Linked DNA regions of Homo sapiens. The protein of the gene in region 2 purifies or fractionates together with the protein of the main gene of each other region. This does not show direct contact. Each region holds a gene or a part of one and is shown on either strand. Other genes may lie near its edges.

Region 1 (3,646 bases), on a different chromosome or scaffold from region 2:
CACATCCCTTACCCCAGACACTTGCTTCCTACCTAGATGCTACCTTGGTAGGGAGGTGCAGCCTTGTCGCTGAAATGGAGGTAATGTGGGCCTGGGATTTGTGTCTTTTTCAGAACAGTGCAACCCTGAAACTCGTCCTGTTGAGAAAAAAATAAGATCAGCTCTTCCTACCAAAACCGTAAAGCCTGTGGAAAACAAAGGTGGGTTGGTTGACTTCAAACAAATCTACAAGGGACTTCACATAGAATAAGTCGAAGGAAAAGGGGAGAGTGGGGCTGGTCAGGGAATCCAGAACAATAGCTTCATTGGGAAGGAACAGCTTCCTTAGCCTTGAGCATCAGGAGTGGGGCCATGTCATCATGGGTGATATTGAGGCAACAGCCTGAAAGCAGTATTCAGGAGAAGAAAAATGGGCAGAAGACAGAGATGAGAAAGGCCATGGCTGTGGTTTGGGGGTTTGCGGTGGGCCCTGCTGGCAGGAGCCTTCTCTAGCCCATAGCTGCTGGTCTCCCTCCATGAATCTGGCTGGGACTGTCAGTTCACCTGAACTCAGCCCAGGCAGGAGGCTTTCTTTGTCCTAGATCATCTCGCTGCTGCTGGGGGTTCAGAGCTCACAGCAGTAGTGGGCTGTCAACCCATCCGTCCAGCCATCTAAACGTTCTTTAATACCTCCTGGGTGTCAAGCACCATGCCAGGCTCTGAAAGCAGCCCCTCTGGTGCCACCAAAGAGGTATTGAACATTCACTCCAAAGGCATGGCCCATTTTTGCCCTTTGAGAAATTTCCAGGTTGGGTTCAGGCAATGCCAGCAGTTTCTGCCCATGCTGAAAGCACAGGAGATTCTACTTGGCTGGTTTTTACAGAGCATCCAGTTAATTGGCCCATCACAGGGTTGGAGCCATGTTGAGGTGGGGATGGGTATTAAGTTATTAGACAACCGGGGTCTAAGCCTAAAGACCACAGGACCACATATACAGTAAGGATGTGAACACTAGAGTGCATTTGTTAAAATCACCAATTCTTTCACTTAGCCTCCCTCTTCTAAAAAAGGAGTGTTAGTATAGTCACAGACTCCGGAGAAGAGGATTTTTGTCTGTACCTGCTTGAATACCCCTATCACTATCACATGTGCGTGCACACATTTTTATCCTGTTCAAGTAGTGGTTAAAATCTGGTGCCCAGGCCTCCTTTTTAGCCATGAGCCATTGACTGTTTTGTATTCCTTAGATGATGATGACTCTATAGCTGATTTTCTCAATAGTGATGAGGAAGAAGACAGAGTTTCTTTGCAGAATTTAAAGAATTTAGGTAAGTCTGTGCTATGCTTGTCAATCGTTGAGATACATTTACTGTGTTGTAAGGATTGTGATTTTTTAAAAAGTTTTTAATTTCTTGAATAAGTATGGCATGTAGGGCTCTTACTATCTAGCCACATAATCTGTAAACATACAGGGTTTCACACCTCCCAGCCTGCCCACACCATTCCTTCTGCCTGGAATCCTGCTGGTCTTGTGGGTTGGCAAAATTCTGCTCCTCCTTCAAGCCTTGGTTCAAGTTTTCTTCACTCAGCTAAGCTTTTCTTGACCTTTTGTGTCTCTTTCAGAATTAGGCACTTTTTTGGTTTCCCATAGCAACTTGGACTTAATAGTAATAAATCACTGTTACATTTCATGGTAATTTGTCTCTCACATACCGATTTGTACAGCAGGGACCTGTATTCCCAGATCCCCAGTGCTCAGCTCACAGTCCAGCCCTTAACACAAACTGGTTATCACATGATTTGATTTAGGGGGAAACAGGTGTTGCCATTTTTGTAGCACTGCTTATTCAGTCCTTACAACATTCTGTTACATGTGCATGGGGTCTGTTAATTTCATTCTTCCCATTTCACAGAATCATGTTAAAAGGTTATGTTTTGCACTTAGTCTCATGGTAATGATTAGTTAGACTGAGTTTGGAGATGAGCTAGTAATAGGTGTGAAAAATTTTACAGACTGTGAAGTACCATGCAGGTATTATTGTTGGTTCCCTGCTACTGGTGCTGCTGCATGCCAAATGGCATGCTTAGACATCATTCAGATTATTTCGTATAGCCGTCTTCACCACTGGCAACTTTTATGGCTAGAAAGAAAGAAAACATGCCAGCAGCTTAATGCTACTATTTGCTTTGTGATTGTGCTGATAAAGCATTTTTTTCTTAGCTGAAGTGGCACGAAGTTACAATATTTACAAAGATACCAAGAACTGGTATCTGTTACTGCATTTAATGCGGAAATAGTTTGATATGCTGGTCTTACCTTTCATTTTATAGAGGTGGGGTCTCGCCATGTTGCACAGGCTGGTCTTGAACTCCTGAGCTCAAGCAATCTGCCCACCTTGACCTCCCCAGTTGCTGGTATTACAGGCATGAGCCACCACACCTTGCTGATAGTTTTATTACACTTGAAATAGCTCTTCACTTTTCAGCCATCTCCATGTGTTTCCACTTGAACTCAGACTGGCTTTTTTTCTTGTTAATTTTTAGGGGAATCTGCAACATTAAGAAGCTTATTGCTCAATCCACACCTCAGGCAGTTGATGGTCAACCTCGATCAGGGAGAAGACAAAGCAAAGCTCATGAGAGCTTACATGCAAGAGCCTTTGTTTGTGGAGTTTGCAGACTGCTGTTTAGGAATTGTGGAGCCATCCCAGAATGAGGAGTCTTAAGATGGATTATTGTGCTGCTTGCTCAAGCGTGTGCTTGACTCCTGGAACCTGCCTGCTCCCTCTCCCAGACCAGCTAGTTTGGGGCTGGGGAGCTCAGGCAAAAGAGGTTTCCAGGATGCAGATTAGGTCATGCAGGCCTTTACCGGCATTGATGTGGCTCATGTTTCAGGCAGACTTGGGGTCCTTAAGGTGGCAAGTCCTTTATGGAGAGAAAACTTGACATTCAGATGATTGTTTTTAAATGTTTTACTTTTGGTACAGTTGATAGACATCATAAACGATATCAAGCTTACACTTCATATGGAGTTAAACTTGGTCAGTGTTAATAAAATCAAAACGTGATTCTACTGTACATTGCATTATTCATAATTTAATTGTTTGAAATTACATTAAATAAATCAACTAATTAAATACTAAAGTTTTGTTCCTTTTTAAAGGAAATAACCACAAGATTTTTCCCAGCCCAAATTCCAGCGCCAATTTTAGGCCAACTTTGGCTGTTTTCTTCCAAAAGTGCTTATGTGGAATTGGGATCCCCAGTGTAGTGACAGACAGTCATGACTGCTGCTGAGTTTGATCTGTGAAGGTAGTGAAATGTGGCCCTGATGTTTCTTAACCCTGATTTGGTAACTACCAGCCCTGACACCATCAGTGCTTGATGTAGCCTGGAACCCCAGGCCCACTGACGCACTGGGCACGGGGCTCTGGGTCGAAGGCTGGAGCCGTCACTGTTGTTCATGTGCATTTGGAGCACTGTGGGAATAGTCTGGCAGCTGTGTGCTGATTAAATGTCTTTGGCAAGGCAGGGGGCAGGAAAAGGCCTTGTGGAAACAAAGGCACCAAGGATCACCCCAGCCCAGTGAAGGCAGAAGAGGTCACGTGGATCAGCCTGTGTCTTTCCAGCAGAATCTGATTAAAGCCTGTAATGCTGTAGGGTGAAG
Region 2 (3,825 bases):
CAGAGCCAAGCTTACTAAAGTTAGAGAACAACTGTAAAACCAAAACTTTACTTATGCTTCCCTGACCACACACCCCAGCCTGGAATTATTCTTTTTAAAATTGCAGAATATTCTTTATGTTGAAAAGAAACTTGAAATGCAAAATACTGTTTTTCTAAACCAGCCACCTTAGTGCCCACAGATCATAGAATTCATACATTCTTTTCCCTGTGTGTAATGTAATACAGATGTACTTACAATACTTTAAAAGTGTTTCCAGCATTCAAGGATTAAATGCTTCACATCTTTTAAACATTATTTCTCTTTGAAATAAGCAGTGTTTTTTTCAAAGTTAGTAGCAATTATATAAAAAAGAAAAATGAGATTATATCAGATACCCAAGTAAAAGATTAACTTACAAAGTAAAATATAAAATGGTGATAACTAAATTTTTCTTGGGAGGAAATAAGACCTGGACTCTCAAACAGGAACTTTTCAAGTGGCATCCTACAAGCACTTGGCAATAACTTATCTTCTGTGCATTTTAGCTAAATCATAAGGCTTCTAATGAAAGGCATTTTTCAAATAAGGGAATGTTTTTTACTTGTTTCAGTTTTTGGTAAATAATTTTCAGTGCATATTTAATGTTTTAGGTATCTGATTTCTTTTTGTAATATTAAATCTTAATTGGGTTTCTCTAGATTTCCAAAGCTGAAACCAAGAAGCAACAAAAAGAGTTCTTCAAAGGCCACATGAGAATCAGAGCCTAAAATTATTGCTGATATAAAATATGTTCCTAGCAGAGGAATGTTCAGAGGTACATAAAAATTACTATGCAACAAGTTAAACATGCTTTGGATCCTAAAACTGTAATGATTACACTTATTTGGATCCTGAAACTGTAATGATTACACTTATTTGGATCCTGAAACTGTAATGATTACACTTACTTGGATCCTGAAACTGTAATGATTATACTTAAAAAAACTTGGTTCCTGTTTTACATGCTAAGCAGGCACTTAAAAAGCACTAAGGATGCAAAGATTTATAAGAGGCTTGTCAACTGATAAATTATTTTAAAAATATTTTATGCAATGAAAATCTGGTATGTTGTGTGGTTTTGATTAGAATCAGTGGATTTTATTTAGTGTTTAGCCTAAAATGTTGCAAACTTCTAATCAGCAATACGCTATTGAGTGTCAGTAAGCTTCTGGGCCACAGCTTTCCAACCTGTTAAATGAAGCGTTCAGATTTCACTAAATAATCTTTTAGCTGAAATTCTGAATTTCTTAGATTTTTCTACTACAAGTGGTTACTCTTAATCTACCATTAATATTTATCAGTAATTTAAAAGTAAATTTTGTAAACTGTTCATAAAGAAAGCCTATCAGACACATATGGGGTTAATATTTTATGGACTTGGAATTTAGTTAAATGAAGCAATAACTTTTACTGGTTGTTTGGGTTTGGAGTTTAACGCTGAGTTAAAGTTCCGGCTCCATCATTCACTGGTCTGTGATCCTGGACAAGTTACTTAAGTTATTTAATCCTCAGTTTCCATGCTTGAAAATGGGGATAATGACAGTATCACTTCAGAGAGTTACTGTGAGGGCTAAATGATAAAACACAGAAACTGCTCACTCATTTATTTAAGCCCTAAGCACATGTGTTTGTTTTATATTTTTATTTACCAAAAATAACAACACTTTCCTATAGAAACTCTAGTTCAGGACAAAGTCACTGGATTTCATTAGCAGTGAACATACTGCCTTTATGTGCATTTTGCATTTTAAATGTAGCCTTACAACTTTCTGTATGACCTTCAAATCATTATTTTATTGTCACATTTACTTCCAAGAAGATAAAGGTACTTTGAATGTTTCTGTTTCCACTATCTTGAAGCAAGTTTTAAGAGCCCAGCTTTGCACTGCCTAAAACACTTAGGTTTAGCTCCTTTGCAAGCCATTAAGCTACTGAATCCTAAGGGACAGCTTTATCTTTTTGAAATTTTCACAAACTCTGGTATTTCCATTAATATAATGTCTCTGCTACCATAAGACAAACTACTTAGGTTTGGAGGAATTAAGATACTAACATTTGTCTTTTCTCTTGCCCTCTGGGACCCTTCTTAGACATTTCCTCTTGTTATTTCACTTGCTCACCCTCACAGGTTCACTGGCTGACCCTGCTCTGGGCAGCCTCATGGGCGCATTATGAGGGCAGAACGGCTCAGTGGGCCAAACAGGTGTTACAGTGACATATATAAATAAAAGTTGTCATGATAATCAAGGGTGTGCTTTTAATCTTGACTCTGTCACTAACTTTCAAAGAAACAGGCCAAGCTCTTGAACTTCTTTCTCTGTACTTTATTAGCAAATTAGTGTGCTTTAAAAAAAAAAAAAAAACCTCCTCATAACCACAAAAGACAAGTTTTTAAAGAAACGAAATCACAAACCACTTTATGTCCCATCTGATCACTGACACTCCATGGATCATCGCCCCTTCCACCTGCTAAAAAATACCAAAACTAAGTTTGAATTTCTCCAAATTTAGCAATCTAGTAGCAGGCCCTAGGCCACAGTATTTTTCCACTAAAATAAGATCATTGAATTAGGTGATCACTAAGATCCCTTCAGCTCTAAATTTCTACAATTTTTGATACTTAACTATATTTTTTCACAGTTGTATTTATTTCTCAATCTAGGTTTCTAGATTAAAAGTTCAACTAAATTATTCCAAAAAAGTTTTAATTCTTCTTTTATTTAAACTTTAAAAGGTATTATTTAAAATTTCTCCAAATAATACTTCTGTGTAACAATTTTTGCAACTCCTAATGTTCAAGTCATATAGAAAAGGATTTTGCCATAGTTAATCTTTTTCTCACCCAATCTCTCTTAGTTTTCATATTTTAAAAATCACAGTAGTTAAGTTAGTGGTTTGATGCACTTTGTTTTGGGATTTTTATATATCCACATAAATGAGGACGATACCTGCTTGACATGGAGAGTAGATCATGAATTGTGTAGTACAGACATATGTCTTAATTCAGAAAGCTCACCAGTTCAGAACTGCATTTGGTAAATTATCCTATTCTAACCATGATATTTAAACTATGGATGTGGTTAAATAAAATGGCCAACTATATATTTTAAAACCTGTTTTAAAGAGGGGCTTACAAGGCTCTGACTTGTTCTAGATATTATTTCTTTGAAATCTTTTCTGATTTTCGCTGGTAAATTCAATTACTTTTAAATCCACAAGGCTTGAGTTCCAGTCTTATCACTGGTCCTTATGAGCTATAACTCCACAAGGAGACTCAGTTTTGCCCATCAATATAATGGTAGGAAAGATACCTACTCATGGGTTAGTTTGTAAGGACTATAACAGGTGAAAATGTTTCCAAAGTGTAACTTGCTAAGCTAGCATCAGTAATAAGATTTTATACTCCAAAAGTAATTTGGCACTCCTAGCAAGGAAATGACATACTTATCAGGAATTATATTTATGATTTATGACAGAGACAGAGACTAGTTAGTAGAAAAAGCATGAACTGAACTCTTGACAAACAGGTCTGAGTCCAAATCTTAGCCTTATAAACTGTACAAACTTAGTTTCTTTGGGTAAGTCAATTTTTCAGAGCCTACGATTCCTAATCAGGTAAAGTAGAGAAGACATAGTACATACTTTATTAGAATTAATGCATGTGAAAATGTTATAAGCATTAGCCTGGCATTTATTCTTCAATTGATTGCTCAAATATTTACTTAGTGTCTACTATGCACAGGTAGTCTGCTAGGTAATGGAAGTTCATAGAAATAAACCTTGCACTTTATGGGGGGAGGCAGA

The links.
Region 1: the proteins of ZNHIT6 (region 2) and ZNHIT3 purify together in Homo sapiens (affinity purification with western blotting, with the first as the bait; one study listed by BioGRID). This does not show direct contact.

What each region holds. Positions count from the first base shown.
Region 1 is NC_000017.11:36,492,700-36,496,345, forward strand, and holds the end of ZNHIT3 (zinc finger HIT domain-containing protein 3), read left to right. Parts: intron 1-113; coding exon 114-200; intron 201-1,226; coding exon 1,227-1,307; intron 1,308-2,523; coding exon 2,524-2,705; 3' UTR 2,706-3,123; downstream 3,124-3,646. Other genes in the region: MYO19 (unconventional myosin-XIX), read right to left, coding at 3,552-3,646.
Region 2 is NC_000001.11:85,659,788-85,663,612, forward strand, and holds part of ZNHIT6 (box C/D snoRNA protein 1), read right to left. Parts: intron 2,491-3,825; coding exon of another isoform or gene 2,472-2,490; exon of another isoform or gene 2,331-2,471; intron 1-2,330. UniProt on the Homo sapiens protein: Required for box C/D snoRNAs accumulation involved in snoRNA processing, snoRNA transport to the nucleolus and ribosome biogenesis.